Regions from separate parts of the Homo sapiens genome. Here all the other regions are linked to region 1. The links come from fine-mapping of genetic effects on gene expression. A gene starts in region 1. Each other region holds a variant in brackets. All regions are shown on one strand. Distances are from middle to middle. Region 1 holds the start of FREM1 (FRAS1 related extracellular matrix 1). Region 2 has its middle 32 kb from the start of FREM1. Region 3 has its middle 110 kb from the start of FREM1. Region 4 overlaps FREM1 (FRAS1 related extracellular matrix 1). Region 5 overlaps FREM1 (FRAS1 related extracellular matrix 1). Region 6 holds the start of LOC105375980 (a long non-coding RNA gene).

The links.
Region 2: its variant is fine-mapped to the expression of FREM1 in ovary (GTEx, PIP above 0.99).
Region 3: its variant is fine-mapped to the expression of FREM1 in spinal cord (GTEx, PIP 0.94).
Region 4: its variant is fine-mapped to the expression of FREM1 in cerebellum (GTEx, PIP above 0.99). The same link has a PIP of 0.9 or more in amygdala, anterior cingulate cortex, caudate, cerebellar hemisphere, cerebral cortex and hypothalamus.
Region 5: its variant is fine-mapped to the expression of FREM1 in lung (TOPMed, PIP 0.95).
Region 6: its variant is fine-mapped to the expression of FREM1 in prefrontal cortex (ROSMAP, PIP 0.95).

Annotation. Positions count from the first base shown.
Region 1 is chr9:14,907,420-14,912,497 of GRCh38, forward strand. FREM1 (FRAS1 related extracellular matrix 1) reads right to left here and starts at 3,009. Exons shown (of 37, transcript NM_001379081.2): 1 at 2,495-3,009. RefSeq lists enhancers at 1-323, 1,273-1,774.
Region 2 is chr9:14,939,681-14,944,758 of GRCh38, forward strand. No RefSeq gene overlaps it. Among named protein-coding and RNA genes, the nearest start is that of FREM1, 32 kb to the left of the region's middle. The variant C/T (reference allele first, on the strand shown) is at 1,994.
Region 3 is chr9:15,012,932-15,018,009 of GRCh38, forward strand. It overlaps the pseudogene LOC389705. Among named protein-coding and RNA genes, the nearest start is that of FREM1, 110 kb to the left of the region's middle. The variant G/A (reference allele first, on the strand shown) is at 3,113.
Region 4 is chr9:14,844,976-14,850,053 of GRCh38, forward strand. It overlaps FREM1 (FRAS1 related extracellular matrix 1), which reads right to left. Exons shown (of 37, transcript NM_001379081.2): 7 at 3,690-3,798; 8 at 985-1,116. Among named protein-coding and RNA genes, the nearest start is that of FREM1, 63 kb to the right of the region's middle. The variant T/C (reference allele first, on the strand shown) is at 2,202.
Region 5 is chr9:14,861,604-14,866,681 of GRCh38, forward strand. FREM1 (FRAS1 related extracellular matrix 1) reads right to left here. Exons shown (of 37, transcript NM_001379081.2): 3 at 2,206-2,300. Among named protein-coding and RNA genes, the nearest start is that of FREM1, 46 kb to the right of the region's middle. The variant T/A (reference allele first, on the strand shown) is at 1,925.
Region 6 is chr9:14,989,474-14,994,551 of GRCh38, forward strand. It overlaps LOC105375980 (a long non-coding RNA gene), which reads right to left and starts at 3,722. Exons shown (of 5, transcript XR_929491.3): 1 at 3,676-3,722; 2 at 3,056-3,281; 3 at 755-872. It also overlaps the pseudogene LOC389705. The variant G/T (reference allele first, on the strand shown) is at 2,313.

The DNA of each region.
Region 1 (5,078 bases):
TAGCACAAAAGCTGTTGAATCACTTGAATGAAAGGGTCAGGTTGCAAGCTGTGCATGTGTGGAAGCTGTCAAGCCCTGTTCAGACCACCCAGCTCTCCAAAGGAGTAGCGACATCAGATTCAGACAAGATAAGAGGCTGCCCTCCTATGTAACCTGGCGCAGGGAAACAGCCTTTCCAGGGAGTTACGGGATCCCATTGTAAGGAATGGCTACATGCCCTGAAAAGATTACACTTGTCTAACTCAATATTCCTGTGGTCATGGTGCTTTGTGAGAGAAAAAAATACATCTGAAAATTTTTGAAGAAAAGCAATTAGCGAAATCTTTAGGCCTATTCTCAGAGTAAATGCTGAAAAGCTCTCATAGCCCATATCTGTGTTTAGAAGACTGAGTCATATCCATCAATGTCAGAATATCAGAGCTAGGAAGATACCAAAACTCATTTAATTCAACTTATTTTACTGATGAGGAAGTGAAGCTTTGAGGGGTTAGATGGCTCTTCCAAGGCTGGTTAGCAACAACTAAGATTTGAAACACCATGAGGACAAGGACCCTGCCTGTGCATGCCATCCCCAGTGGGCATTCTGAAATCCTTAAAAACTATCACAGAGCCTGGCATGTAGCAGGTGCACCTAAATGTTTGGAATGAGGAAAGAAAAGAAAGCAAGGGGCTCTGATGGCCATGTCCAGTTTTCTTTTTAATATAAATATTAAACGCCAGAAAATGCAAGGATGGGGATGGAAGCTGAGCTCTGACTTTCACATATTGTGAAATGAGAATTTTAACACCATGGAAGAATCATTTTCTGTTTCTTCTCATCCCTGTGGGATGGTCCAATCCAAAAATCATTTTCTAGGAATGAGGCTCCTGAACCATTCCATGAAATCAAGCTCAGTTTACCCAAACTCAGCCTCGCCCAACCCCTACAGCCCAGCAGCCCCAGGAGGCTGGGAAAGAATTAAGAACAGTCCTGGGTTTAAAGTTTCCAAAACAAACATTGCTTAGCCATGCGGGGGCAGATCAGGCCATATAGCCCAACATGTGAAAGCAGGGAACATGGTAGTCAGGTCCCTTTGCCCAACTCCTTTTTTCCCTCGTGGGAATGAAAAGGCAGAGATGAAAAGGGAAGCAAGAAAAAAAAAAGATGAGGTTGGTGGAAAACTGATTAAAAAGCCCTGGTTTGCCAGCCAAGCATGCAAAACCATGTTGCACATTAAGTTATGCTCAACAACAGCTCAAACTCAGGTTTCTTATTTAGATATAAGGTTTAATATTAACCAAGTACATGACAAGAATTTCATGTCAAGGACAATGTAGAGCAATGTTTACCCAAGTGTGACCCACCTGCTTCAGAATCACCTGGGAAGATTCCTGGCACCACTCCAGGTCTAAAATCCTTTGGGCCTGGGAACTGAGAACCTGCCTTTCACCAAGCAAATGGGGGTTCTTACACACAGTCAGTTTTGAGAATGCCTGATGGAGAGAAACAGCAAAGTTTCCTAGAGCTGCACTGAAGGCACCTTTATCAAATGTAAGCAGGGGGCTGAGGCACAGCTCTTCAAGCTTTACCTAGAGTCAGGAACAGCGGGTGTCAGTTTTCCAGAGCAGAAACCTGAAGAGCATTCGAATCACTAGCTCTGTTCTGTGAAGCAGCACCACAGAGGTTAATCTCTCCAGTAAGATTCCCAGGCTATAAACACCAATTGGCTCCCAGAAATGCTCTTTTTAAGCTTTGTAATGCACACCAAGCAACAAGACTGGGTGCAATAGTTTAAAAAAAAATCAGAAACTAAAATTAAATACCTTAAAAACAATAAACAATTTCCATAAGCCAAAAATTGTTTCCTGGATTTCAAAATAAAATGAAAAGAAACTCTTTACAACAGCACCAAAGTCTCTGGACCAAATCTCAGTACTGAGCAGAGAGAGCCTAAAAATCAGTCCAAAAACTTCAGAACAAGGCCATTTCTTTGCCTCCCCAGCACTATCTCTCTTCCCCACAATGAAACAGAAATCATGTTTTTGAAAATATGTCTCCAAATATAACTAAACTTAAGCAAAGGTATCCAGACATTATCTCATCCAAATTTCTCTATGTTTGTACCATGAGGATATTATCTGTTCTGTTCATTTTTGTGTCTTTTCCCTTTGCCATTTCATTTAGCTGAGAAGAAACATTCTAATTTCAGAGGAAACAATTACACAGTTAAAAAATGGTTATTTCATTGGCAAGTGCCAGCACGGATGGACTGAGAAGAGTTAGAAATTTGTGTCACGTAATAAAAAGAATCTCAGTTTTGGCATTTGGTTTGTTAACACTGCAAGTTGCCATCTTCTGAGTTAACAGGAGAGTTAAACTTTTGCAAGCCTACTCTTGCAGATGCTTTGCATTGTTACTTGGCATTAATGATATCACACAAACAATCTCTGGGGCATTCTGCTAACAGAACATTCACAGTCACAATGAAAAGAAACACATAAAACAGATACTTACAGGTAGTGGTTTTCCTTTCCAAGACAAAAAGTTAGAAACCCTTGGAACTGGCGGGCAGGATAAGAGTCACTGACACAGCAATCTGGTTTAAAGGGCTTTGAGAGGAAGGGGGAGGAAAAAGAACCCCGGGAAGGAAGAGAGCTGAAATTCCAGTCTTTCAGGTCAGCTGTGTTTGAGATTTCTTTTTACTAAAAATCCATTAACCCACCTCACAGAAAATACAGAATTGAAGTTCACATACACACTCCACTTTCTTTGCTGGTCTTCTCCAAGGCAGCTGCTGCAGCTTTGCAAACTTCCTGAGCGCCAAGCCTCAGGACTCCCTGTGAGAAGGGCATGATAAAGATGCCTTCTACTGTTTACACAGAGCCCGACCTCCCTGGCGGACAGCCACCGCTAGCCCCGTGCCTTCTGCTGGTTGGGTCCGCAGGGACAAAACTGAGCTTTTGTTAATGAGGTCGGTTGCCTCTTCCCAGTCTCTTCCCAGCTTCCTTTCTCACTACTAGTTTTGTACTAACTGCTCCGCCACTCGCCGAGCCAGAGCAGCCTCTCCCGCCTGCAGCACACAGGCACACACACACTCAGACACAGGCACACACACATTCACAAATGGGCACACAGTCACATACAGACACACCCACTCACAGAGGTACACACACAGGCACACATACAAACACGATAGACACACAATCACCACACACAGACACATACACAGGCAAATGCCTTCACATGCATGCACACATAGTGACCCACCCCACACATGTGCATGCATTCTCACGCATGCTCCACACACACACGGGGGCACACACATACGCACAGGCCGCACATGCCCACACCCACACATGTACATACTCACACAGACTCTTCCAACACACTTTTTTTCTGCCCTTCTTTTCTTCCAACACATTCCCATCTTCAAAGGTTTTTATTTAAATTTAGATGAGAAGCCCAGCATTCAGAAGGGACAGGGCCCGTTTTAACTTTTGTCATGGCATTTAAGGGAAAAGATAGGATGGAACTAGATCCTAAGGTGCTGTTTTTAAGTACCACCTTAGTTCTTCCATTTGTAAGGCTTTTTGTGTGTCTGGCTCTTTTCGAAAACCCATAAAAATCCCATTAATCTGATCCATTTGCATATAGTGCGTGATCCCAATAATGCAGATATATCACTGGCCAAGAACTGTCCTCTCAACAGAGATTCACATAGTTAACTTGTCAGTATTCAGTGGTCTGTGAAAGTCTTAATCCTTAACAACTGTTTAATAAAATGCTTTCCTGTATTTTATTCCCACCAGGAAAAAAAAAGATAATGGCCTACCATCTGGCCTTCTAAATTAACCATAAAGAGAGAATTTGAAGTATTAACTCACTTTGGGGGAACTGTTTATATTAAGACATGTCTGGCTATCCTAAACCTTTGCCAAAAATATAGAACACTGTGAATCCAATTCAACCTAGATGTGGTTTCCCGTAACAAGGTCACAACACCATATGCCTTTCTTTGGAAGCCATAAGGAAAAGAGAGAGGAAAATGAAAAAGGAGAAGAAAATTACATGAGGAAGGAAGAAAGAAAAGAGAAAAATGTAAAGAAGAAAAGAATGCATAAGAAGGGAGAAAAAAATTATGTATTTTAAAAACATGCTTTGTGGTTACTTTAGCAATGAATGGTGCATATACACTTACTCAAAGTCATCGGAGATTTCAAATCTTCAAGAATTTCTTGATTCATTTTATTTGCTCTGAGAATAAGTAGGTGAAAGTTAAGAATCACTAAGCTCTTTATAAGTGAACAGATATTATTTACTAAACACAGTTATTATTAAATAAATATAGTGACAATGTGTGAGTCATATATTAATCCTGAAAAGGCAAGAAATAAAGCCTTAATAATGACAGTTAAGAAACACAGCATAATAGACAATTTTATTCCCCAACTGATTTTCAAAATTGCCCAGGTTGTGAATATCTTACCTGCAAAGAAATGAAGATGGTTTTAGAAGCTGTTAGTTGAGACTCGGATTCCATTTGACAAAGGAATTGTATACTATGTACAAACGGTTGCATCAACATGCTTATTCTAACATCTAAATAAGGTTTATAGATTAGTCTAGAAACTAATAAGGTTTATAGATTAGTTTATAGATAGATTATAAAGTTTATAGATAGATTAAGAGCTAAATAAGGTTTACAGATTAGTCTAGAAACAGAGATAAATGTCTTTATATCACTTCTATGGGAAAAATAACTTAAGCATGCTAAGCAAAAAATAACAAACTTAGATTGTAAAGTATTTCAAAAAGTCCGCAGGAGATATAATCTTTCCAAAGTTAATTATATACATGAAGCTTGGCCTAACTGTGCTGAACATATTCTGAAATAGGCAGTTAAGAGTTAGATCAGTCAAAATGTCCTGAAATCTGAAGTACCTGTTTATACAAATGTCATTCCTTCTATCTGCCACAAATGAATAAGGGCCTGGAAATAATACAATTATCAACTTCAATCAATAAAATACTGTTTGAACAGATTGAAATGCCAAGCTAGGGAATTTAAAAAGAACTAGTCAAAGAAACAACAAAGAAT
Region 2 (5,078 bases), 32 kb after region 1:
CCCACATGGAAACTATACCATCAGCTCTTCCAGGTCTCCAGCTCGCCACATAGATCTTGAGACTTGCCAAGACCTTCATTATTGCATGAGCCATTTTTTCATAACACGTCTCTTGTTTTTTATTGACCCATTCATCCTATTGGTTCTGTTTCTCTGAAGATCCCTAATACAAACTCCCATTGTTTTTTAAGTACATCTTTACTTTTTAGCCAAGAATATGTTCCAGGCTTATCTTGGTTTTTCTCTTCCCTGGCCCTGGAATCAGTCATGAATTCTAGCACCACTATCTATTTTTAATGGGGCATGATATTTGTAAGCAAAAGTGCATTGTTGGTATTGTTGTTTGCTTCTAAGTCTTTTTAGCAGGCAGTTAGGGAATGTGTGTGTGTCCATAGATACATATAGATGTATCTGTATACACCTATAATAGTGTTAATGTGCATATATACATCTATAAGTGGACAAGCATATATACACATATGTGTGTATATAGATATACAGATATTCATACTAATACCTCTAATTACAATCCAACACCAAACACTACAGTGTTCCTCACAGCCTTCCTGTTTTTTATTGGTATCCTTGTTCTCAAACTATGAAAATCTGGTTGTCAGCATAATCAATATATTTACTCATTTGCTCAGTCCTACCATACACAGAAAGTAATTTCAGAATAGCTAACCCATACATTGTGGAAATCAAACCTAATATATATAGTTCAGCTTTGTCTTTTAGTGGACAATAGCCAAAGTTCTATGAGTTTGTTCTTTTTCACTGTTCAGTATGGTCATGTTATTCATTTAAAGGTTAGGTTGATCTACTTCTGTTTGTATTCCATTTTAGGGTTTTTCCCCTACACCCTTGTTGATCTAATTTTTTTCAGAGTGAAAAACATGAGCATGATGCCAAAAGTCAAAACTTCACTTTTGCCTTGTTCCTATCCATCTCCTGCAGGTAATCAATCTCGTTAGTTTCCGATTCATCCTTCCTGAGATGTATATTATCACTTTCGTTTCTTACAGGACATATAGCATACTCTATGTACTCCTATGCCTTTTGCTTTTTTCGCAGTAAATTATTTCATCTTTGTTTATGGAGATTTTTTAAGAATCTCCCTCTGTCACCAGGCTGGAGTGTAGTGGCTTAATCATGTTTTACTCCATCTTTGGCCTCCTGGGCTCAGGTAATCCTCCTACCTCAGCCTCCTGAGTAGCTGGGACTACAGGTGCATGCCACCATACCCAGTAAATTTTTAAATTTTTTGTAGAGAAACGGTCTTGCCATGTTGCCGAGGCTGGTCTCGAACTCCTGAGCACAAGTGATCTACCTGCCTCGACCTCCCAAAGTGCTGGGATTATAGGCATAAGCCACTGCACCCAGACTGGAGATATTTTTGCAGTTTTTCATGATGTGGATGTTCCATACCTTATTCAATAAAAATGTCCTATATTTGGGGATTTAGGTCATTTCTAATACTTTAAAATTATAAATAATACTACATTGAATAACCTTGTGCATATATATTTTTATATTGTTGAGATCTATCTTCAGAGTAAATTCCTTGAAGTGGGATTATTGTACCAAAATGTAAACACACTGTGGTCTGATTAGGCATTGCCACATTCCACTCCATACGGATGTACCATTTTGTGCTTTCACTAGCAATATGTGGACTTGCCTGTTTTTTTCCTGCCTCCCTGAAAAAGTATATTGTCAAGCTTTTTAATTTTTTGCCATTAGTTTGCACTTTTCTCATAACATTAAACATTTTGTATATGATTAAAATTAAACATTTTGTATGTGTTTAATGGCCATTTCAATCTTTTTTGGTGAGTTATCCCTCATGTCTCTTATTTTATAATAAATCTCTAGTAGAAAAATATTTTTCTCATAGAAGAACATTTGCCAATTTTTCTATTAGGTTTTTGCTATCATCCCTCTTGAGCATATGAAGCAACTGGCTCAAAGAAGAATAACCCAGGGCCATTCA[C/T]GTAGGAATTGCTGGAGCTGAAACTGGATATTACCATATAAAGAGAAAATTGCACAACATAATTTTTGTTGTTCTTTGCACTTTTCTATGTGACTCCCAAAATTTCCTGCCAGAGTATTCAGATATTACTTTGATAATTAAGAGGAAAAATGAAGTAAATTTTTTTAAATGAAAGAAATAGAAGAAAACCCAGCTGTTCCTTAAGTCACAACAGCTTTCCACAGTCTGCCAGGAGAATCTGCACCTGGAAGGTGGGAGCAGCCAAGCATGCAGGCTGCCACCTGCCAAAGGCTAGAGGAGTTTACCCTATTTGTGTTTATTTTAAATGAAAAAGTAAAAACAAAAGGAGAAGTAAGTAGAAAACATTGATAAGGTGACATTTGAGATGAATGATGCTTCATACTGAACCCAAGCTGCAAGTGGGGAAGAGAGACACACCCTCTAAAATCCATGACTTGAGATTCTCAAGAGAAATAAGAAGGAGGGAAAGGAGAGAGCTCACCAGTAAGACATAAATCTCAGAGGCTGTCTGGGAGTCTCAGGAGTGGCTCGAGTGAGGTTTTCAGCATAGAGAGGAATGAAGAAGTTATGCAACAAATCTGCTACTTCGGAAAACTGAAAAACGGTGAAGGCTGGGGAGATGAGGCATACATCATTCGTCTGCTAGGCAGTGGATTTCAGTCCCGACCGTAATTAACATCACCAGAGGAACATTTAAAGCAAGCAGATGTTTGGGCCCCATCCTTAGAAATTAAATCAGAATCTCAGGGGTGGGATGCTAAGATCCTGTTGAGAACCGCAGGTCTAGCAAATGTACAAGAGGCACAGGACTTCATGGATGTTTTCAGAGTATCTTTCAAGGATAAGAGAAAGAGATCAGCTCTGGATTTTAACTCAACAAATCTACCTATCAGTGCAGATAAAGAAATTATGTCACCATTGTTCCCATCATTATCATCATCATCCTCATCATCGTAGCTCCCATTTAATAAACACCTGATTATGCCCCAGATTCTATGGTAGGTACTTTATACTCCTTACATATTTTATTCTTCACAGCAACTCTTCAGGATAGTTTCGGTTTATTTAAGAGTTGATGAAATGAAGGCTTAGAGAGATTAAAAAATTTATCCAAGTCAATTATTGGCATTTTTTTAATCCCATTCAGTACTGTGATTATATAACATTGGTTCATATTTATCAACTTCACCAACTATACTTTCTTTAAAATAAAGCAATTTCACTCCTGGATAATACAACCAAGAGAATTGTATATTAGGCTATTTTTGGTTTGCCATTAAAAAAAAACCTGAGACTGGGTAATTTATACAGAAAATAGGTTTATTTGGCTCATGGTTCTGCAGGCTGTAAACAAAGCACAGTGCCAGCATCTGTTTCTGGTAAGGGCCTCAGGAAGCTTCCAATCATGGAAGATGGTGAAAGGGGAGCAGACGTCTCACATGGCTAGAGCAGGAACAAGACGAAGGGAGGTGCCACATACTTTTAAACAATCAAATCTCATAAGAACTCACTCACTATCACAAGGACAGCACCAAGCTATTTGTGAGGTACCTGCCCTCATCACCCAAACACCTCCCACCAGGCCCCACTTTCAACATTGGGGATTACATTCAACATGCAATTTGGAGAGGACAAACATTCAAACTATATCAGAGTGCATATATCTGCAAAAAGACTTATGCAAAATAGTCATAGCAACTCTATTCGTAATAGCCACGACATAGAAACAAAACAAATGTGCATTAGCAGAAGAAAGAATAAACAAATTGGTATAACCATATACAACAAACTTCTAAACTTATATATAAAACAACATGGGTGAGTTTCTTTTTTTTTTTATTTTCTTTCTTTTTGAGATGGTGTCTTGCTCTGTCACTCAGGCCGGAGTGCCATGGTGCGATCTCGGGTCACTGCAACTTCCGCTTCCCAGGTTCCAGCAATTCTCCTGCCTCAGCCTCCCAGGTAGCGGGGACTACAGGTGTGCACCACATCCAGCTAATTTTTGTATTTTTAGTAGAGACGGGGTTTCGTCATGTTGGCCAGGCTGGTCTCAAACTCCTGGCCTCAGGTGATCCACCCACCTCAGCCTCCCAAACTGCTGGGATTACAGGCATGAGCCACCATGCTTGGCCCAACATGGGTGAATTTCAAAAATTCAAAAATTTTATTGAACAAAAGAAGTTAGATACAAAATAGTACACATTAAGTGATTCCATTTATATATTTTTTAAATACAAAATTAAGTCATAGTGCTAGAAATCAGAATAATGGCTCAAATTAGGGGAGGGGGATGTAGATGGTCATATTGGCATATAGGAACATAAAAACTTACTGACTTATACATTTAAGATCTGTGCATTTTACTATACGTAAATGAGGCCTCAATCAAGTTCTATAATTGAAAAATAAGTGAGTGGGTAAGGTGGCTCATGCCTACTGTAATCCCAACACTTTGGGAGGCCAAGGCAGGAAGATAATTTGAGCCAAGGAGTTTGAGACCAGCTTGGGCAACATAGTGAAACCCCATCTCTACAAAAAATAAGAAAAAATTAGTCAGGTATGGTGATATGTGTCTGTAGTCCCAGTTACACAAGAGTCTAAGGTGGGAGCATCACTTGAGCCCAAGATTTCATGGCTGGAGTGGGCTATGATCGCACTACTACACTCCAGCCTAAGTGACAGAGTGAGACTCTGTCGCAAAAGATGATAGATTAGCTAGCTAGATAGATAGATAGGTAGATAGATAGATAGATAGATAGATAGATAGATAGATAGATAGATATAGACAAATACATAGAAGCTTACCCAAGACCACAAAACTAGTGTCTGAGCCAAGAACAGAATTGAGGTTTATCTGAGAAAAACTTATGATCTATAAATAGGGCCACTTCCTTCTAAGTGTGTATTAACTGCTCCCATCCAAGTATCAATTACTCAACAGAAGTGAAAACAGCACAAATGCCTAACCTTATGACAATGATTAAGTAAATTATGATATGCCCCCCCCCAAAATGAAATATAATTCAGCCACTAAGTGATGATTATGAAGGTTTAAAGCAATACA
Region 3 (5,078 bases), 110 kb after region 1:
TTATCCCGTCTCGGCCTCCTGAGTAGGTGGGACTACAGGTCTGTACCACAATGCCTAGCTAATTGGTGTTTTTTGTTTTGTTTTCCATGTAGAGACAAGGTCTCACTCTGTTGCCCATGCTGGTCTCAAACTCCTGGGCTCAAGTGATCCACCCACCTCAGCTTCCCAAAGTGTTGGGATTACAGGCGTGAGCCACTGTACCTGGCGTGTAATTTTGTATAATTTTAATTAGTTTAAGTATGTAAATTAAAACAGGATTAAATGTTTCTTGTATTGATTATATGTTGACATAATACTATTTTGGGAATATGGGTTAAATACAATACCTTAATTTCACCTGTTTTTTTTTTTTTTTAGCTCCTCCTCCCTGCCCCAGCTGTTTCTTTTTTCATGTGGATACTGGAAAAAATGTAGCCTGTATTATATTACACTTGGACAGGCTGATCTGTCCTATATCTCCTCTTTGAAGCCAGAGGCAATTAGTCTCTGATGGGACCAGTGTGGGCTCTAGCTACTGGTCAGTCTTCTGCTTCTACTCTAAGTCATCTTCTTTTCATGTCTCTGCTCACAGAGAGAACTTTAAAAAGCATGATTATTGTGTCATTTGGGAAAGGTTGGGCACATTTGTTGTAGAGATGGGCAGTCTCTAAAACTTTTGGGGTGATGGATGTTAAATTGTAGTGCCCTGGAGTAAAGCCTGTTACCCTACTGTAGTTGTGTTTCTGGGGTTTTATGTCCAAGTCTAATATTCTAGGAATTAGATCCTTCTGTATTTAGTTTTGAAGCAGTAGCAAAATGTAAGAATGAAGGACCTAATCTTGTTCTTGACTAGTGTCGTTTCCCAGGAGGTACAATTGACTGGCAGTTTGTTAATGTGACAGTGATTAGTAAATCACAACTAAGTTTGTTCTTAACCCTTTGAAGCTTCTTACAATAACACTGTAACTTAGCAAATAAGATACCTTTTATTGAGCAATTCTTAAATGTCAGTGTCATGATTCACTATAACAAGTGATGTACACATATTTAATTCTCACCCAACTCTTTAAAGTAGGTCTTATTCCCATGTTCACAAAGGAAATAGACCCAGCATGCTCAGCATTAGTCAGTAAGGGGCTGGTTTTCTTTTTTTTTTTGAGATGGAGTCTCACTCTTGTAGGCTGGAGTGCAATGGCAGGGTCTCAGCTCACTGCAACCTCCGCCTCCTGGGTTCACGTGATTCTCCTGCCTCAGCCTCCTGAGAAGCTGGGATTACAGCCTCCCACACCATGCCCAGCTAATTTTTGTATTTTTAGAAGAGACAGGGTTTCACCATCTTGATCAGACTGGTCTCGAACTCCTGACCTCAAGTGATCCACCTATCTTGGCTTCCCAAAGTGCTGGGATTACAGGCGTGAGCCACCATGCCCGGCTGAGGGCACTGGTTTTCATACTTGGTTTTCTGACTGTAGAGTGCATACTACTATCTGAAGTAAGAAGAGTTGCCTGCCTAGTTGCCTGATTTTTACCTTGACACAACCACTGTAGCTTAATTTAAGTATTCTAGTTGATAGTAGTGGCAGGGATATAGTAAGAATTCAGCAGTGAAACTCCTAACTCATTAATTGAGTATCTCGAGTAGAAACATTTAAGGCTTCATTTTTGAATAGTTAATTTAAGGCTTCACTTACGTTCTTTAAGTTTGGGCTTCGGTTAATTGAAATTTCTATAGAATATTTTATGGCTGGAAGAACATATTTTTCCTTGTACTGATGGTGAGCTGAATATTTTCATCTCTGTTCTTCAGTGTTTTTCTAGCTTAGTAATTCACATAAGTTGCTTATTCTTTTTAGTCCACATGTGACTTGGCATGTGTAAAAATGGAAACTGTGATACTGGAAAGTGATAAACTTTAAATTATTTGCTAACAGAAGACAAATAGGTCTTCACTTCCATACCCACCCTGATTTGTAGTGGCTGCCTGGGGCACTGTGAGAGAGATTCTAAGGGTCCCAATCAATCAGTTACACCCATGGGTGCAGGGAGGAACCACTTATTTTCCATCCTTAAGGAGCTTTTTGGAGAAAGCCTCATCTGTTTCCTTGAAATGATCAGCACTGACTTTTCTGAAGAAAGGAAGGTCATGAAGCTTATGTAAAACAATTTAATTTTTAAAAGGTTTCAAACCAATAAAAAACGTCACTACTGTTTAGAGATAGTTAGAAACATAGGTGGTGAAGTTTGCCATTCGTTCAACATGATACTGATCTACCAAAAGTGGGAAAGGGAAGAAAACACATTTTGTGACTCGGGTAACAGCATGTATTCTGTACTGTCATCAAGATTGAATCAAATGATATTCATAGACTGGGGTTAAAAGCCCTAGTATATAGTATATTTTTATAATACCATCCTTGGTAATCATTTTTTTTTTTTTGAGACAGGATCTTACTCTGTCACCCAGGCTGGAGTGCAAAGGCATGATCACGGCTCACTGCAGCCTGGACCTCCAGCACTCAGCCTCCCAAGTAGCTGAGACCACAGGTGCCCACCACCATGTCCAGCTAATTTCTCTATTTTTTCTAGAGACAGGGTCTCGCCACGTTGCCCAGGCTGGTCTCAAATTCCTGGGTTCAAGCGATCCTCCCACCTCAGCCTCCCAAATCCTCCCATGTTAGGATTACTGGCATAAGCCACTGCACACAGCCCATCCTTGGTATTATTATACCTTATATTTTTTGTTAGTATCATCAGAACATTGTACCTCATACATATAATTTAAAATCACGTATCATTCTTGAGTATAATTGTTAATGTTTTAACCAGTCTTCCTCTCCCCCAGTATAGCAGCCAGCTGTTTGGAAGTGTTTTGTTGGTTTGTTTGAATAATATCCATTCTTTTCATTATTATTCTCAAAGAAGTACAGTTTGTCAAAAAGGACATGTAATTTGTCAAAAGGAAGTCTAATTAGACATTGTTGACACTTCCATCTCATTTGCATCCTGAAATCTGATGCACATTAACATCCAGAAAGAATGAAAAAAATCTTAAAAGCCAAAATTGAAATTTAACTTTTAAAAATATATTCTTCAGGCAAATATTAGACATTGTCTCTCTATTCTTACCTCAAAC[G/A]CATGCTTGCCATGGCTACTCTTCTCCCACTTTGGTGAAGGTTTTAAAGGTTTAATTCTGCAGTGATTCCTTGTCTCTTACATTGTTGTCTTTTTCTGTTTTAATTCACCACAAGTCAGTAATTTTCTAACAAATAAGGTAGGACAGGGCAAAAAGAACAAATTTTGCCTACTTGGATCTTTTTTTAACCCAGCTGTCTCTTAGTATCAGGACCTTGAAGGATACCCAGAATCTGATGCTCGAGTCCCTTATGTAAGTTGGTGTAGTATTTGCATAACTTATGCACATCCTCCTGTATATTTCAAATCATTTCTAGATTACTTAGAATACCTAATATAACATAGACACTGTGTAAATAGTTGTTATACTGTATTTTTTTAAATCTGTATTTTTTAATTTTTTTCCTGAGTATTTCAATCTGCAGTTGGTTTAATCTAAGGATGTAGAACTCTCAGATTCAGAGGCAACTATATAGTGCATGGACCAGGCTGGCAAACTTTCTATGTAGGGCCAGATAGTAAATGTTTTACACTTTGTGGGCTACATAATCTATCACATTCTTGTTTTATTTTTCAACCATTTAAAAATGAAAAAATATTTAGTTTGAGGGTAGTTAAAAATGGGGTGAGCCAGGTTTGGCCCAAGTTTGCCAATTCCTGGACCTGTCTGCTGAATCTTTAAAGCTTATGTAAAATCATGATTGCCACCATGGAATAGACTTTCAAAAAAAATCATGACTGTAGCCGGGCGCGGTGGCTCATGCCTGTAATCCCAGCACTTTGGGAGGCCGAGGAGGGTGGATCATGAGGTCAAGAGATCAAGGCCATCCTGGCCAACATGGTGAAACCCTGTCTCTACTAAAAATACAAAAATCCCCTGAAAATGGTGGTACGCACCTGTAATCCCAGCTGCTTGGGAGGCTGAAGCAGGAAAATCCCTTGAACCCGGGAGGCAGAGGTTGCAGTGAGCCAAGATTGCGCCTCTGCACTCCAGCCTGGAGACAGCGAGACTCCATCTCAAAAAAATAAATAAATAAATAAATAAAATTTAAAAATTTTTAAAAAAGACTAAATCCTGTGAAATAGTCGCTAAGAAATCTTTAAGCCATTTTTAAGCTTGAATCCTATGTAGAAAAATTACCAAATTGCCATTCTAAATTACAGTGCTGCAGATTACTACCCGAGGTGGCACAAGTTGTACTAGTACAAAAAGTCTTAGGAGGAAAAACCCTCTTTGTAGTTTCTTTACCTCTGAAGACTGATTCATTTTCTAACTGTGTAGATAATCTTCTATATTATTGATTTCTTTCAGCTGACCTCAAGAGAATTTGCAAGACAATAGTTGAGGCTGCAAGTGATGATGAGAGACGAAAAGCTTTTGCTCCCATTCAGGAAATGATGACTTTTGTGCAGTTTGCTAATGATGAATGTGATTATGGTATGGGGCTTGAGTTGGGAATGGACCTCTTTTGCTATGGCTCACATGTGAGTAAAAAAAAAAAAACCTCCACTTGCCACCCCCCACCACACCTCCCTCCTCTCCCCCTGACACATACACACATGAATACATGCACATTTATACCCCCAAATTCCAGCAGAGGTAAGATAGGGATTCAGCTTGTATTTCAAAATGAACTTTTTGAAGTGATTTTTTTTAAAAGCAGATGTCCTAAAAACCTGTGAAATTCATCTTACATTCTAGCAAAGGTGAATAGCCAAGATTATTTGCATTCAGGCTTATATTAAAGTGAATTTATGTATTAGACACATTATAGGGATATGCCTTCTTGCTGTGTGTATACATTTGGGGCTAAGTATGGGGGTGTGTGCATACACCTTAGGCTCCATTTCATTTCGACTGTGGTGGGGGTATTTGTTATTGTGCTTGAATTCTTAGATGAAAAATATACTTTAAATTATTTAACCTTTATAAGAGATGCTGTTTTACCATTAACTAATTGCTCATT
Region 4 (5,078 bases), 62 kb before region 1:
CACTGTCCTGAGATTAAGCAGGAGGATTTATCATACATTTATTATTTTGTTTTTGATTCCAGAATTCCCTGCTCACAAATGATGGTGAGAGTTATCTTTCTGCATTACAGTTAGGGAAACTAAGAAGATAATTGAATTAAATCCTCTGAGTTCATTATAAGGAATGACTTATTTTATCATAAAGTGTAAATATTACTTTTATTAGATTATTACCTTGTTAACTATCATCCCATAGAATTATAAATTTATTTCTTTTAAACCATGACAACTACTACTAATAACATAACATCATTATTACTAAAGTATTAATTAAGCATTAATTTTTCTTTTTCTTTTTTCTTTTTTTTGAGATGGAATCTTGCTTTGTCACCCAGGCTGGAGTGCAGTGGCGTGATCTTGGCTCACTGCAACCTCTGCCGCCCAGGTTCAAGCAATTCTCCTGTCTCAGCCTCCCAAGTAGTTGGGACTACAGGCGCCCGCCACCATGCCCGGCTAATTTTTGTATTTTCAGTAGAGACGGAGTTTTACCATATTGGTCAGGCTGGTCTTGAACTCCTGACCTCAGGTGATCCACCCACCTTGGCCTCCCAAAATGTTGGGATTACAGGCGTGAGCCACTGCGCTCGGCCTAATTTTTCAATATACTTCTTTGAAGCAGAGAAATAAAAAACATTCTGTCCTCCAACTGGGAAAAAAATAACTAGTTAAGGAGTATACTTACAAGAAGCCATGCATGGCATCCAGAAAGCAAAACTGAGGTTTAAACAATGAGCCACGTACAAGGTACCATTCATAAATGGTTAGACATTGATCTGAGCATTTGAACACAAAAGTCAATGATTTCAAGATCTCCAGATTTTCTGCATTTGACAATTTCATTGAGAAATTGGGCCCAAGAGATGCTACATATATCTGTTAAATATATCTACTTTTGAAGAAAATACTTTTGGATTCTTTGCTAGGTTACCAAGTTGGATCATTCACCTCTTAAAGTCAGCCATCCATGCTGCAGGCCACCAACGGTGACTAGCCGGACAGCACCAATGTCGTCATTGTCGACAACCTGAAACTGTTCCCAAGTGATGGCTCGAGACTGCCCCTCAAGGAGACTCAGACCTATGAAAGAAAGGAGAAAAGGGTGTTGGTATCATAGACTGGATAAAGAAAATGAGGCACATATACACCATGGAATACTATGCAGCCATAAAAAATAATGAGTTCATGCCCTTTGCAGGGACATGGATGAAACTGGAAACCATCATCCTCAGCAAACTAACACAGGAACAGAAAACCAAACACCACATGCTCTCACTCATAAGTGGGAGCTGAACAATGAGAACACATGGACACAGGGAGGGGAACATCACACACCAGAGCCTGTTCGGGGGTAGAGGGGAAAGGGGAGAAAGAGCATTAGGACAAATATCTAATGCATGAGGGGCTTAAAACCTAGATGACAGGTTGATAGATGCAGCAAACCACCATGGCACATGTATACCTATGTAACAAACCTACACGTTCAGCACATATACCCCAGAACTTAAATTTTTTAAAAAAAGATAAGAAAAGGGTATTGGCAAGTTCTATGACATGCCAACGTGCCTGCTTAAGAAAAGATGAGTGAATTTCCACTCATGAAACCATCTGAATATTGCATCTATAAAAGCTTTTCAAGAAACTGGAATGTAGCTTTTATTTTTAGTACTATTTTTATTTTTAGTACTATTAACTCCAATATTACAACAGATTACAGATAATCCTGAAAGGGAGCAGAGCAAGCTGGTCGAATTGCAAGGTAGCGTGCTGCTGGACTTATCTTATGCTTCTCTCACATCTGCCAGCTTCACCTGCCATCCCGGCCTCGACCAACTGACTGTTCTCTAGCTGCAGCCGCCCCATGAGGGTTCCCAGTCTCCAAAATTGTAAAGCCCTCCTGCCACCACTGCCTCATCTTCTGATGCAGCCGGCTACCTCCACTGCCCTCTAGTGGCGGCAGGACCAACCTTGTGGCTGATCAGGCCCTGCACCAGGGGACCCAGGAAGTGTGTGCAATGGCTGCTAAGAGGGGCCAGATAACACAATCTGGGCATGTGGGGAGTTAACAGCCAGTGAAGTAAACTTTAACCCATTAAACACAGGAGATGGGAAATAACTGACCATTAATAGATTGTTGACCTTTTCCCAACCCCACTTCCAACTCT[T/C]ACCAGACACAGCAGTTGCATCTTCTCCCTGGAGACATCAACACTGCAGAGCAATCTGCTTTATCTTATTGTAAAGCTGTGACACCAGCTCAGCCATGCGTTTTTATTTGCTTCTCCCCTTACTCTTGCTTTTAGTATAGGGTTAGTACATCTGATCTGCCTCGGGGTCTGTTTTCTAGGGAAATTGGGCTAATACATATATAAAGGAGAGGGAGAGAGAAAAAGAAGGAAGGAAGGAAGGAAGGAAGGAAGGGAGGGAGGGAGGGAGGGAGGGAGGGAGGGTGGGAGGGAGAAGAAATGGACAGAAGTGCATAAGAAGAATCTCTGTGACTGGCAATAAGGGTTTGGAAGCCAGGAGTGCATAGGACAAGGCATCACGGAGCACAGCAGAGGAACAATCGAGAAGCCTAGAAATATATACAGCAAAATATTAACATTGGTTATATCTTCACGGCGAAATAATAATTTTAGATGCATTCTCCAAATTTCAACGATGGCACAGATCAAGTTCATAATAAGCAAACATTTATTTTAAAAGGGATTCTGATGTTCAAAGCAGCCAAAATGACATTGAGCAAACCTGGGTGTCACCGATCACACATACACGTACAGACTATTCCATCTCTACACTCAGGCAGGAGCCCATGCAACATGTGATTATTCCTAAACTTTAGGTTACTGATTCCATCTTTTCTCTCATTACCCCCTTGACAGAGGTACAGTAGGATGTATAGCCAGAATTATAAATCAAGGCTGCTCACCTGATGTTCTCTATCTCTGCTGAAACTCACACACATACAAACACATATCTATGTGTACACACACGAGGCAGCTCGTTTAAGCTGCCACCTGAGGATTTAAATCAGACACAGATATTTTTTCCTTAATACTATCTACCACCACTGCTTATAAGTATGTTTCAAATGGTATTGATGGGATCAGTGAGAAGGAAAAGATCTCCATTTACATTCCACATTTACATCTGATCAACATATACATATATATATCACATAAGTCCACTCAGAATTGAGAGGCATAGAAAGCCATATTTTAAAGCAGTTAAAGCTCTTATTTACATATTTTAGTTTCCATGCAGCCCAACATAAAAATAGACTATAGATTATAAAAGCTAAACCTTTCTCCAATCCCTTGGAACAATTTGAGTTGGAGATTTCAGTCCCACTACAGCTCAATATCACAAATAGTCAGTTTTTTGCTTCATTCAGTTGAAAAGTGTCCCTTTGTCTTATCTCCGGCAGAGGAAAGAACTTGGCCTCAGGACGCAGAAATCCTGGATTTAAATTTCTCACGCTGCCAGGAGGAATAAAAAAACAACAACAAAAGCTACTATGTGATGCCCTTAATCTGTCTGGGTTTCAGTTGCCACATGTATGACATAGGAATAAAACTACCTTTCTTTCCTGACCCATCTACTTTCTTGTATTCCCTTCAGGGCTATGTTGCTCTATGCCTTATATTGAGCTTTACCTGTATTCCAGGATACACGGGGGGCATTTGTATCTGCTGTTCTGATGGAGATGTGGACTGTCATAGGTGCACTCCTTTCAAAGAAGAAGTCGTATACCTCCAATTCTACCTGTAAACAAACAGAGGCAAAGGAGCCACACACTGAAGCGTTACAGGGTAAAGTAGCATTAATTCTGGGTTATACCCACACACAGTGGATTCAGTTTTCTGCGGGGATTCACATTTCTGCAGTTCCCACATCTCATTTAGACATCCTGATTTGACTTTTTCAGGTTCTAGATCTTGTTCCTTACTTTAACGGTATTTTTAAATTTTCTTCTACATAAAAGAATTTATTAATCTAAAATTGGTAATATGCTGGAGAAGTGTCTCTGCACTTGCTTAGGAGACCAACCCCTTCCCACATTCAGTCACTTAAATCTTTCTCAAAGGTGGAGGATCTAGAGAAGTGGTTTTCAACTAGGGGTGATGTTGTCCCACTACAGGACTTTTGGGAATGTCTGGAGGCATTTTTAATTTCAGAAGTCGGTGTGTGGGAAAATGCTATTGTCATCGAGTGGGTAGAGGCCAGGATACTAACATCCTACCGTACACAGGACAACCTCCCAAACAAAGAATTATCTGATACAAAATGGCAATTGTCGTACTGCTACTATCAAGAAACCCTGATCTAGAGACATGTATTTCACTAGACATATTTTTAAATATCTCAACTTTATTTGCTTTCATGAAATTCATAACTAATAAGTAAGTAGGGGCTGCGTGATAAGTTTTGATCTTTATTATGTGCTGTGTATGTATTGCACCAGATGTTGACAGAGAAGAATGAGGTATAACACAGAAATGCAAGGCATACTCCCTACTTTTGAAGAACATGTGGTCCATGGAAGAGGATAAGATAAATAATCAAACAGCACTATATCAGCAAACACTAAATAACAAAAGAAACTGATTCAAGGCTGCCAAAGCAACAGACTGAACAGGAAACTACATGGGCAGGAGGTGTCTTTTTTGGAGGGGTAATGCATTCGGTTGGGCCCTGGCCCAGGGCTTCCAGTCCACACAACCTGAAAACTGTGTGATCTCCACTGAAAAAATTGAGAGTTACTGTCTAACGAAAAAAATCACACATTCGCACAGGTTCTGCTTTAAGAGTACATTATACAATGCCAGAAACTACACACAGGAAGAGGCCAGAAAAGCAGTGCTCTAAGATTGGATGTGCAATGAGAAATTACTTCCTAACAGGGAAGGCATGGGGGGCCACAGACTATGATGAAAAGGGGGAAATAAAAGCAGAAGGCAAAGCATAGCGTTTATAGCCTGAAGTCCTTTGTCTTCCCTTGAGGCTACATGCTGAAAATGCCGAAATTACAATAGAGATAACCC
Region 5 (5,078 bases), 46 kb before region 1:
TCAAGAGATTCTCCTGCCTTAGCCTCCCGAATAGCTGGGACTACAGGTGCCTGCCACCACTCCCAGCTAATTTTTGTATTTTTAGTAGAGATGGGGTTTTGCCATGTTGACCAGGCTGGTCTCAAACTCCTGACCTCAGGTGATCTGCCCACCTTAGCCTCCCAAAGTGCTGGGATTAGAGGCATGAGCCACTGCGCCTGGCCCTCTTAACCTTTTTGTTACAAACAATCCAATTATAATCTTATAGTTATTTTAAAATGTGCCATTGAATTGTTACTGACGGTAGTCACCCTGTTGTGCTATCAAATACTAGGTCTTACCCATTCTAACTACTGTTTGTACTCATTAACCATCCCCATGTTCCCTGCAACTCCCCACTACCCTTCCCACCCGCTCCGCGCAAGTTCTTTGAAGTTATTTGTTTTTTAACTCTAAAGTCTTAGAAAGATCAAATGGCCCTGTATGCTGATTTCATATCTTCCTAAGGAATCCTTGAGTGCCGCTTCATTTTCTCAACACAGCATTTTGTGACTCTCTTTTGGCGCTTGTTCTGCATCATAATTACCTGCTCATCTTTTGCCTTAGACTACAAGCACTAAAATAATCTGTGTATTCTCATCCTTTTGTTGATTATGCTCAACGTACAGCCTGGCCTGTAATAGGTGGTCATAAATGTTTGTAGAATGGTTCACTGTTCCAATGTCTTGTACAAAAGTCTTTTACATTAGTCTAATGCTTAAAGGAAATTCACACCAACATATCTAACCAAATATTCTTAAAAGCAATAAAAACCAAATAAAAAACCCTATAAAGGCCTACTCCACATACATCAGTTCTCAGTGACTTTTATGAAGTCAGATATACCATAATCGTGAGCTTAAATTTAAAATTAATTTTCACTGGGATATAATTCATATACCACAAAGTTCATCTTTTAAAAATATACAACTCAGAGTTTTTTAGTGTAGTCCCAAGGTTGTACAACCATCATGACTACCTAATTCCAGAAGACTTTCATCAACCCCAAAAGAGACATATTTCCCTTCCCCAGCCTCTGGCAACCACTAATCTACTCTCCGTCTCTGTGAATTTGCCAGTTCTAGACATTTCATACAAATGGAACAATACAATATGTGACACTTTGTGCCTGGCTTCTTTTACTTGGCATAATGTTTTCAAGGTTCATTCATGCTGTAGCCTTTATCAGTGCTTCGTTGTTTTTTTATGGCTGAATGATATTCCATTCCATGAATATACCACATATTGTTTATCCATTCATCAGTTGGATTTATTCCATTTTTTGGCTGTTATGAATAATGTTGCATTGAACTTTAAGTGCAAGTTCTTATGTAAAACATAAGTTTTCATTTTTCTTATATATATGCGTAGGAGAAGAACTGCTGTCTCCTACGGTCATTCCATGTTTAACTCCATAGTTGATTTTTAAAGAATTTTAGGCCAGTCATGGTGGCACATCCCTGTAATCCCAGCACTTTGGGAGGCGGAGACAGGCAGATCATGTGGTCAGGAGATCAAGACCATCCTGGCTAACACGGTGAAACCCTACCTCTACTAAAAATACAACAAATTAGCCGGGCGTAGTGGTGGGCGCCTGTAGTCCCAGCTACTCAGGAGGCTGAGGCAGGAGAATAGCTTGAACCTGGGAGACAGAGGTTGCAGTGAGCCGAGATTGCGCCACTGCACTCCAGCCTGGGTGACAGAGCAAGACTCCGTCTCAAAAAAAAAAAAAAAAAGGAATTTTAAATATTTAATATGTTTAAAAATGGAAGATATTGCACTTTCTGTAACTAAACAGCTGGTAACAAAAAAGAAGAATTTCATTCATTTTTGGAATATATTTTCTCCCTGATTTTCATTAAGAATTTGTAGTTTATAATTTCCATTTTCTACCATAAGTGGTGGG[T/A]TGGAACACCAGAGATACCTATATAAGGACACTAGAGGGAAACAGGATACGGCTAAAAATTTGCCACAGAAGAATCCTAGGGAAGATGACACAAGTGGAAATAACTGAAAGTTGGCTACAAATCTTGCCTGATCCACTCAGGCCTCCAGTTTCTGTTGATTACTTTCTTGTCTGGAATCTATTAACTCCCCTCATGACAATACATATCCACAAGAAAAGCCCTCATAAGAACACAGAATGGTTACTTGGCAGCAAATGAGCGATGTTCCCGTGCCGCTTACCTGTAAAGTCTGAGCTTCACTGTGTCTTCATCAAGAATTGGACAACCATTGTGAACATACTTGACTTCGTTGGGAAGGAAATGGCAGTCAAAGACCTAGTTCACATGAAGAATTGGATAAATATCTATGAGAAAATTGGTACAAGATTTAACATTTTGCCAGGAGAGCACTGCCTGGAGAAAATATGCTCTGTTAGTAATGTGTGTATGTGTGTGAGTGTGTGTGTCTTCACCACCACCACCTCTACCCTACCCCCATACCCAGTCACCATCCTACTTATACAGCTGTCTCTTGTTTTGAGAATATCTAAGTTGTGAAAACCAAAGCAGTTCAAGAAAATTAGTTAAGGGATGATTACGTCTCTAAATAAGTGTCTTTTTACCACCTAGAGTGCATTTAAAACATACTTTCATTTTTCGAAATTTTATTTACCCCTTTCAGGGGTTCACAGCAATTGAGTTAGAGAGTTCTTTCTGTGTGTCTGCATGAAAAGGCATGCTTTAACCCACCCACAAACACACTGTATTCTTTCTGTATATCTGTGTTCTCCTTTCATTTCTTTTTTTTTCCGAATAGTATTCTCATATTCAAAGATGAAGCCACTGACTATGGACACTACTGTGGTTAATCAGAGCCTAACATGACCCAGAGTTGTGTCTTGCATACTTGCAAAAAACTGCTTTCATTAGTTAGGCAATAGCAGAAATGGCAGATGAGAAAAACAGAAATCTAAAAGCAATTTCCTCTATTCAAATAAAATTATAATGAACTGTCTCAACTCACTCAGAATTATTAGGAGATTGTTAACTGTTATATTTTGGGAACCTGATTTTTAGAGGAAGAATCATCTCTCCCACCCATATCATGCCCTTCATTCTGCCCAATCTGACTCTGGTAGAGTTCTAATACCCTTGAGGTATGCACGCATGTCCACCATTGTGTTCGTGGTGTTTCGTCTGTACCTTTTCACAGCCTCAAACATTTTCAGACAACATAATTCACTCAGAGAAGACTTTACCACTAATACAAACGATTTTCTTTTCCCGCAGATATCATTGATTCCTCTTTTAAATTGACAACTAGGAAGGAGATAAAGCAAAGACCTTCCCCATATCATTGACAAATAGTCATGGTAATAAAGAGACAGTCTGCTTTGTTAAAAGAAACATCTGTTTTATGTTTCATAATATGTTTTCCTTTTATAAAAGGCGACAACCATAATTGTCCATAAATTTACTAACTAAAACAAAGGAGAGCTAAATCCTTTTCTAATTACTGTCTAGCTTTGTTTTTTTCCACTTCAACTGCTTTTCAATTACAATTTATAATTAAATTGTCACACATTCCTAGCTCATTACTCACTTTAATGACAGTAAAATGGTTCAAAGTAGAGATACTTTCTTACCGCTATATTTCCTATTCAAAAAAGCAAGTTTAGTGCTAACCTGGGGTGCTTTCCACCCAGCAAATTTCTTGCTTTGGGCTAGGTGTGAGAAGTGCCATGTGTGAGGGAGTCTTGTCCTAAAACATGAGGAAAACATATTGCCATCAACCTCATCTAATTGACTATATCAAGAGGGTTATCTGAACAGAAGGCACTGGTGTGCATCAACTGAAATCCCTTTCCAAATATTCAACAGGAAAATGAACCTGTTGATCCTAAGACAAACTTCAGTAATGAAATGAAAACACTAATTGAACAGATGTTAAACAAAACATTTTCTGTGCAAGTCACATGAAACTGTTCATTACACAGCAGGGTGTTGTTAATACAGTCGTCTTGCTAGAAATGGGTTCACATAAGCTTGGCTTTCAGCTTATTACTAAGCTCTATTAAAGAATAATGTTTAGGCTGTGTGTGTGTGTGTGTGTGTGTGTGTGTGTGTGTGTGCACATGCACTTAGCTATGCTTAATTTCTAAAACTCCATAAGGAACGAACCCCTAGGGAAGGACTGAACCAGCCTGCGTTAAAAACCAAGCACAAATTCAACAAAACAAAACAGACTTAGGAATCTTGTTTTTGTTGAAATTATGAGAATAACAAATAGGAACAATCACCTGGCAGTTTGAGAAACAAAGTTCTCCCATGATATAGATTTCTCTCACACACAGTTTTAATATTTGGCCAAAAAAAGTACTGAAACTCCATATTTTAATGAACTCCTTTACCACAGAATAAATATTAGAAGATATAAATCCCATACCGACTTTAGAGGCTATAAATCCATTTGAGATGTCATATTTGCCTCTGGAAATACATACACTAAGTATTCATGACTTGATTCTACTTTTTCTTAATGAGCAATAGCAGGCTAGGGAATCAGTATATTCAGAGGTGTTTCTCAGCAACCAAGGCAATTTGTGGTTTCTCCTCTATACTGTCTTTCTAGTAACTGGAGTTTTACCTTAAAATCAGAGAGTGTGAGATGGAGATGACTTGCAGGCCTATTCCAATCCTTGATTCTTGTGAACAAATGTTTTTTACCTAGTTCTAGTCACTTGGATCCCTTTTTGCTCCTCAGTGCCTTGGAGCAGGCCAAGCAATCAGGACCATTAAAACATCACTAAAGATATATAATGGGGACAATTTTATTTCTCTCAGAGAGACTGCCATATACGGTAAGGAGTCATAGGCCATTTGAGGTAGGGAGAGGAGAGCTCTCAGAGGCTGGCTTAGGTAACAATAGATTATCTCCAAATTGCCTACTAAGGAGAATCTGGTCATCTGCAGGGCTTTTGTTTTGCTCAGTTGGGCATGCATGCTTGAGGTCCAAACTGGAAGACAGCTTAGACAGCTTGCTCCTGCGAGCTACCAGTGGGAATTTTCCTTCTTCTCTTTTTCACAATATACTCAGGCCCACTTCTAAATAAA
Region 6 (5,078 bases), 82 kb after region 1:
ATCCTCCCAAAGGATACATTGACTGTGACCTTATTTGGAAATAGGGTCTGTGCGGATGTGATCAAAATAAGATAAAGTGACGGCCGGGTGTGGTGGCTCACGCCTGTAATCCCAGCACTATGGGAGGCCAAAGTGGGTGGATCGCTTGAGGTCAGGAGTTCAAGACCAGACTGACCAACATGGTGAAACCCTGTCTCTACTAAAAACACAAAAATTAGCTGAGCATGGTGGTGTGCGCCTGCAGTCCCAGCTACTCAGGAGGCTGAGGCAGGAGAATTGCTTGAACCTGGGAGGCAGAGGTTGCAGTCAGCTGAGATGGCACCACTGCACTCCAGCCTGAGCGACAGAGCGAGACTCCGTCTCAAAAAAATAAAAATAAAAAAAATAATAAAACCATAAAAGTGATACTTGATTAGCATGGGCCCTAATCTAATGACTGCCGTCCTTACAAAAAGAGAGAAAGTTAGACACAGGCAGATGCACAGGGAGAACACGTAATGACAGAGGCAGAGAGTGGAGTGATTCATCTGCAAGCCAAGGAATGCCAAGAATTGCCAGCAGTCACCAGAAGCTAAGGCAAAGGCATGGCACAGATTGTCCCTCAGAGACCCCAGAAGGAACCAACCTCCTGATTTCTGATTTCTAGCCTCCATAACTGTAAGGGAATAAATTTCCATAGTTTTAAGCCACCCAGTTTGTGGTAATTGTATGGCAGCTTTAGGGAGCTAATGTACTGGTGAACATACGGACTTACCAGAGAAAACTGAAACCCAAGTGTTTTCGGAGGTGATGCCCGGAAGCAAGCTTACTGACACGCAGAACCTCACAAAGGCTCAGGAATTGGAAGTGCCATAGCTCTTCAGTGGGATGAGCTGAAAAGAGACCATTAAAAGTCCCAGAAGCAGTTAAGACTCCTAGATTTCCTCCCCTGGCAAAGTCAGGGAAACTTTCTCTAACCCTCATTCCCAACCTGAAACCTGCAAGATTATTTCTTTTGGGAGATATGGAACCAGGATATGGATTCAGGGACACCAGACACAGCTGAAGGTAAAAATGCTATTATGAAACAGTGCTGTAAGTGAAGGTATGCATGATAATTAGGTCTTTTTTTTTTTTTTTTAGACAGAGTCTCACTCTGTCACCCAGGCTGGAGTGCAGTGGTGCAATCTCAGCTCACTGTAACCTCCACCTCCCAGGTTCAAGTGATTCTTGTACCTTAGCCTCCCGAGTAGCTGGGACTACAGGCACGTGCTACCAAGCCTGGCTAATTTTTGTGTTTTAAGTAAAGACTGGGTTTCACCATGTTGGCCAGGCTGGTCTCAAACTCCCGACCTCAAGTGATCCACCCTCCTTGGCCTCCCAAAGTGCCGAGATTACAGGCATGAGTCACCATGCTCGGTGGAGAGTTAATTTTATGTGTCAACTTGACTGGACCACAGGATGCCCAGATATCTGGTTAAACAATATTTCTGAGTGTCTGTGAGGGCCCTGAGTAAAAGAGATTACCCTCACCAATGTGGGTGGGCATCATCCATTTCGGGTCTGAATAAAACAAAAAGGTAGAGGAAGGGAGGATTCACTTTCTCTCTGCTAGACTTCTTGAACTGAATTTTTGATCTTTTCCTGCCCTCGGTGATCCTGGTTTGCAGGACTCCAAACTCGGACTGGAATCTACACCATCTCCAGTTATCAGGGCTTTAAACTACAACATGGGCTTTCTGGGTCTTCAGCTTACAGACAGCAGATTGTGGGGCTTCTCAACCCCCATAATCACATGAGCTAATAGATAGATAGAGATATAGGTATAGATATAGATATCTATTCATTCTCTGTTTCTCTGGAGAACCCCAACTAACACAGGGCATCAGTGCATATAATGAAATTACTAAGTCTCCCAAACTCTTTCCCGCATTGGGCTCCAAGAAGGCTATATATTCTCAAAGCAAGTAATTAGAAGATTACTCTCTAGAAGAAAATAAACAGCTGGTCCTTGCCCCACCATCTTACACCTTGTCCCACCATCTTACACCTTGCCCCACCATCTTACACCTTGCCCCACCATCTTACACCTTGTCCAGCAGTGAACAAGCCTTGCCTATGTCCCCAAAGCACCTTTTTAGAGCATCACTTTTACATATAAATTGACAGCAGGGATCACTACACAAGATGAAGAACGCCTCTAGCAGAAACGACAGGGACCAAATATAAACAAACAAACAACCAAAAAAAACTCAAAGAATCAAAATCAATGCAGAGTTATGTAGAAAGTATTTTAAAACTCCTATAATTTACATCTTCAGAGAGTAAAGGAG[G/T]TATATTCATGAAACAATAATGTAATGCTATAAAAGAACAGAGAATAAAAAGGGCACTTAGAAATGAAGGTATAATAAAAGAAATAAAGTAATCTGATAATCATTTGTCCAATTAAGTTGAAAAAGTCACAGAGAAAGTAGAATAAAAAGATGAAGGGATAGAAAATAGGACAGACAGGTAAGAAAAAACATCAGCCAAGAAGGTCCACGATCTAAATAACAAATTTCAAAAAATAAGAGATAAAATAAGAGAGGGCGGAAAGAAACGATCAAATAAATAATACCAGGAGAATCCCCATAACGGAAGAACATGTGTTTCAGGATTGAAAAACTGATCAATAGGAATGAGAAAAGACCCATAAGAAAGACACTCGATTGTGTCTTAGAACGCTGGGTATAAAGAGAAGATCCTAAAGCTTCTTGAGACAAAACAAAACCGAAACCAAAGCGGGTTACATAACAAGAAATTTAGTGACCTGAGAAGGAGAAGGAAATGCAATGACGTAGAGTTTCTCAACAATTTTGGAAGCTAAAATATTGTGGAGCAAGCCCTCCAATATTCCGAGTGAAAGTTATTTTCAACCTAGAACTCAGCCAGAATAAAAACAGTTCCAGACCTGCACGCTCTGTGGGAAAAAAGACCTGGAAGCAACCTCCCTCAAGGAACTATTGGCGGATATGTTCCACAACATGAGGCTATATAATCAAGAAAAAGACACAGACTCAGGAAATAGGGAACTCACCTCAGGAATGAGGAATAAGACCTTCCCAGGATGGATGTGAAGGAGACCCAGGACATCAGTTGAGAGCTGTGCCTTCCAAATTTTGATGTGCATAGGAATTACCAGGGGATCTTGTTGCAATGCAGACACTGATTCAGTAAGTCTGGGTAGGGCTTGAGATTTCGCGTTTTTAACAAATTCCCTCAGGATGCTGAGGCTGCTGGTTCAGGGACTACACTTTGCATAACTGGGGTGTAGAGAAAAAATAGTCCGAACTGTACCAAGAAGACGATGGTACAGAGACAGAGACAGACAGACACTTATTTCCTTCTGGGAGATCATCGGGAATGAATTAGTGTAAGTCAATAACTGTATAGTAGGGGAGGGAGAGGGATGGAGGAGAGGGAGAAAAGGATTAATGTTTTAAGTAAACACAAATGAAGAAAAAACAAGGAAGGGGCTGTACTGAGGGCAGCCGCATACATCCAACCTTGCCTCTAGTAGACACCTGAAGAGGAAGGTTGGACCACCCTAACGGATTCAGATTCAGTAGTCTGGGGGGGTCTCTGGAGTGACCCTGGAAGATGCTCCAAAAAGCCTAGAAGCGGACCACAAGGACAGAAGACGCCCCTTCCCCATACCCAGCAAGGGAGTAAGCCGGGCCTCAAAGCGCCCGGCGCCAGGTCTCAGGGGGCGGGGCATGGGCGGAGCCTTTTCCCTAAATTGGCGCGCCCGAGCGGCGCTGGGATTCGCATTGGAGGCTTTTGAACCCGGAAGCAGTTGGCTGCTCTCGGAAGCGGCCGCGGATCCGGGAATTCGGCTGGCGCTGCAGCTGCAGAATGGTGGGCGGTGGCTGGAAGCGCAGGCCCGGCGCGGGGGCGGGGCCGCAGATACTGCCAGAAAGGCTGTGGGGGCTACGCAGGTGGCTTTGGATGACAGCCAGGGTACCAGGAGGCAGCGCGTTTCATTCATGCAGTGACTATTAAGCTTGCTGTGTGTCCGGGGTCTGCGGTTTGCTGCGGGGACCCTGCCCAGGTCGCTGTTTCGCGCTCTGTAGGGGATTGGACCAGGAAAGTAGCGCCTCTGCATTTTCTGCCCAGCTCCTCTTGGCGCATTTCCTGGGGAAACGGATTAAGCCAACCAACGTTTCATTCATTCGCCCACCCAGATAGATTGGGAACCGATTACATACCAGACATTGTGCGGGGCCCTGCGGATTTGGGGTCAACCCGCCTGCCCCTTCTCCATGTAGAGCCTCCGGCCTGGGGAGGAGGGGCACAAGCGAATATGCATTCTACTGTGACTTTTTTGTTTGGGATTATAATGCTGGTGTGTAGAAAGTGCTATGGAAACACTGAAGGAGGATTTAACAAGTCCCAGGGGGTGTTAAAGAAGACTTTTAAGACAACTCTTTGAAAATGGGTTTTGAAGGCAGAGAAGAGTCTGAGACGTAAAAGTGTAGGAGATGTTTGGGCATAGTGGAGCGTTCGGCTTGGCTGGAGCCAGAGAAATGGGAAAGTAAGAGGGACCTGATCATAAAAGCACTATGAGAGGGGAGGGGGGAAAAGTATGTGCATTATCTCATATTTTACTACGATTTCGGAAGTTCTGTAACCACTACAGTAGCAATAAGGGGAATCAGACAGGAAGGAAGTGCCATTGTGATAACTAAAGTTTTAGAAAACTTAGTCTGGCAGTGTTATAAATCGGATAGGGTGTGAGACATTCTTGGAGGGCTTAATTAACTAGTAAAGGGCCAGTTGTATAGGCATTCTTCATATTGGGTCATGCATTCTAGGAATACCAGGGTAAAGGAGAAATGCAGCCTCTGAAGGGGACAGCTGTCCTAAATTCTAGTTGTTAGGGATATGGAGATGCTGAACTAGTATGTGAGTTAAGGCAGAGCTGAAAAAATTCTCTTTGAAGGTTCAGTGAAGAACTGCTTTGGTGGCGTGAGGTGCTTAACTAGAAATACAATAGCAGAAATGAAGGCGAGTCTATAGAGGCTATAACCATAATGGCCGGCATTTGCATATTATGTGCT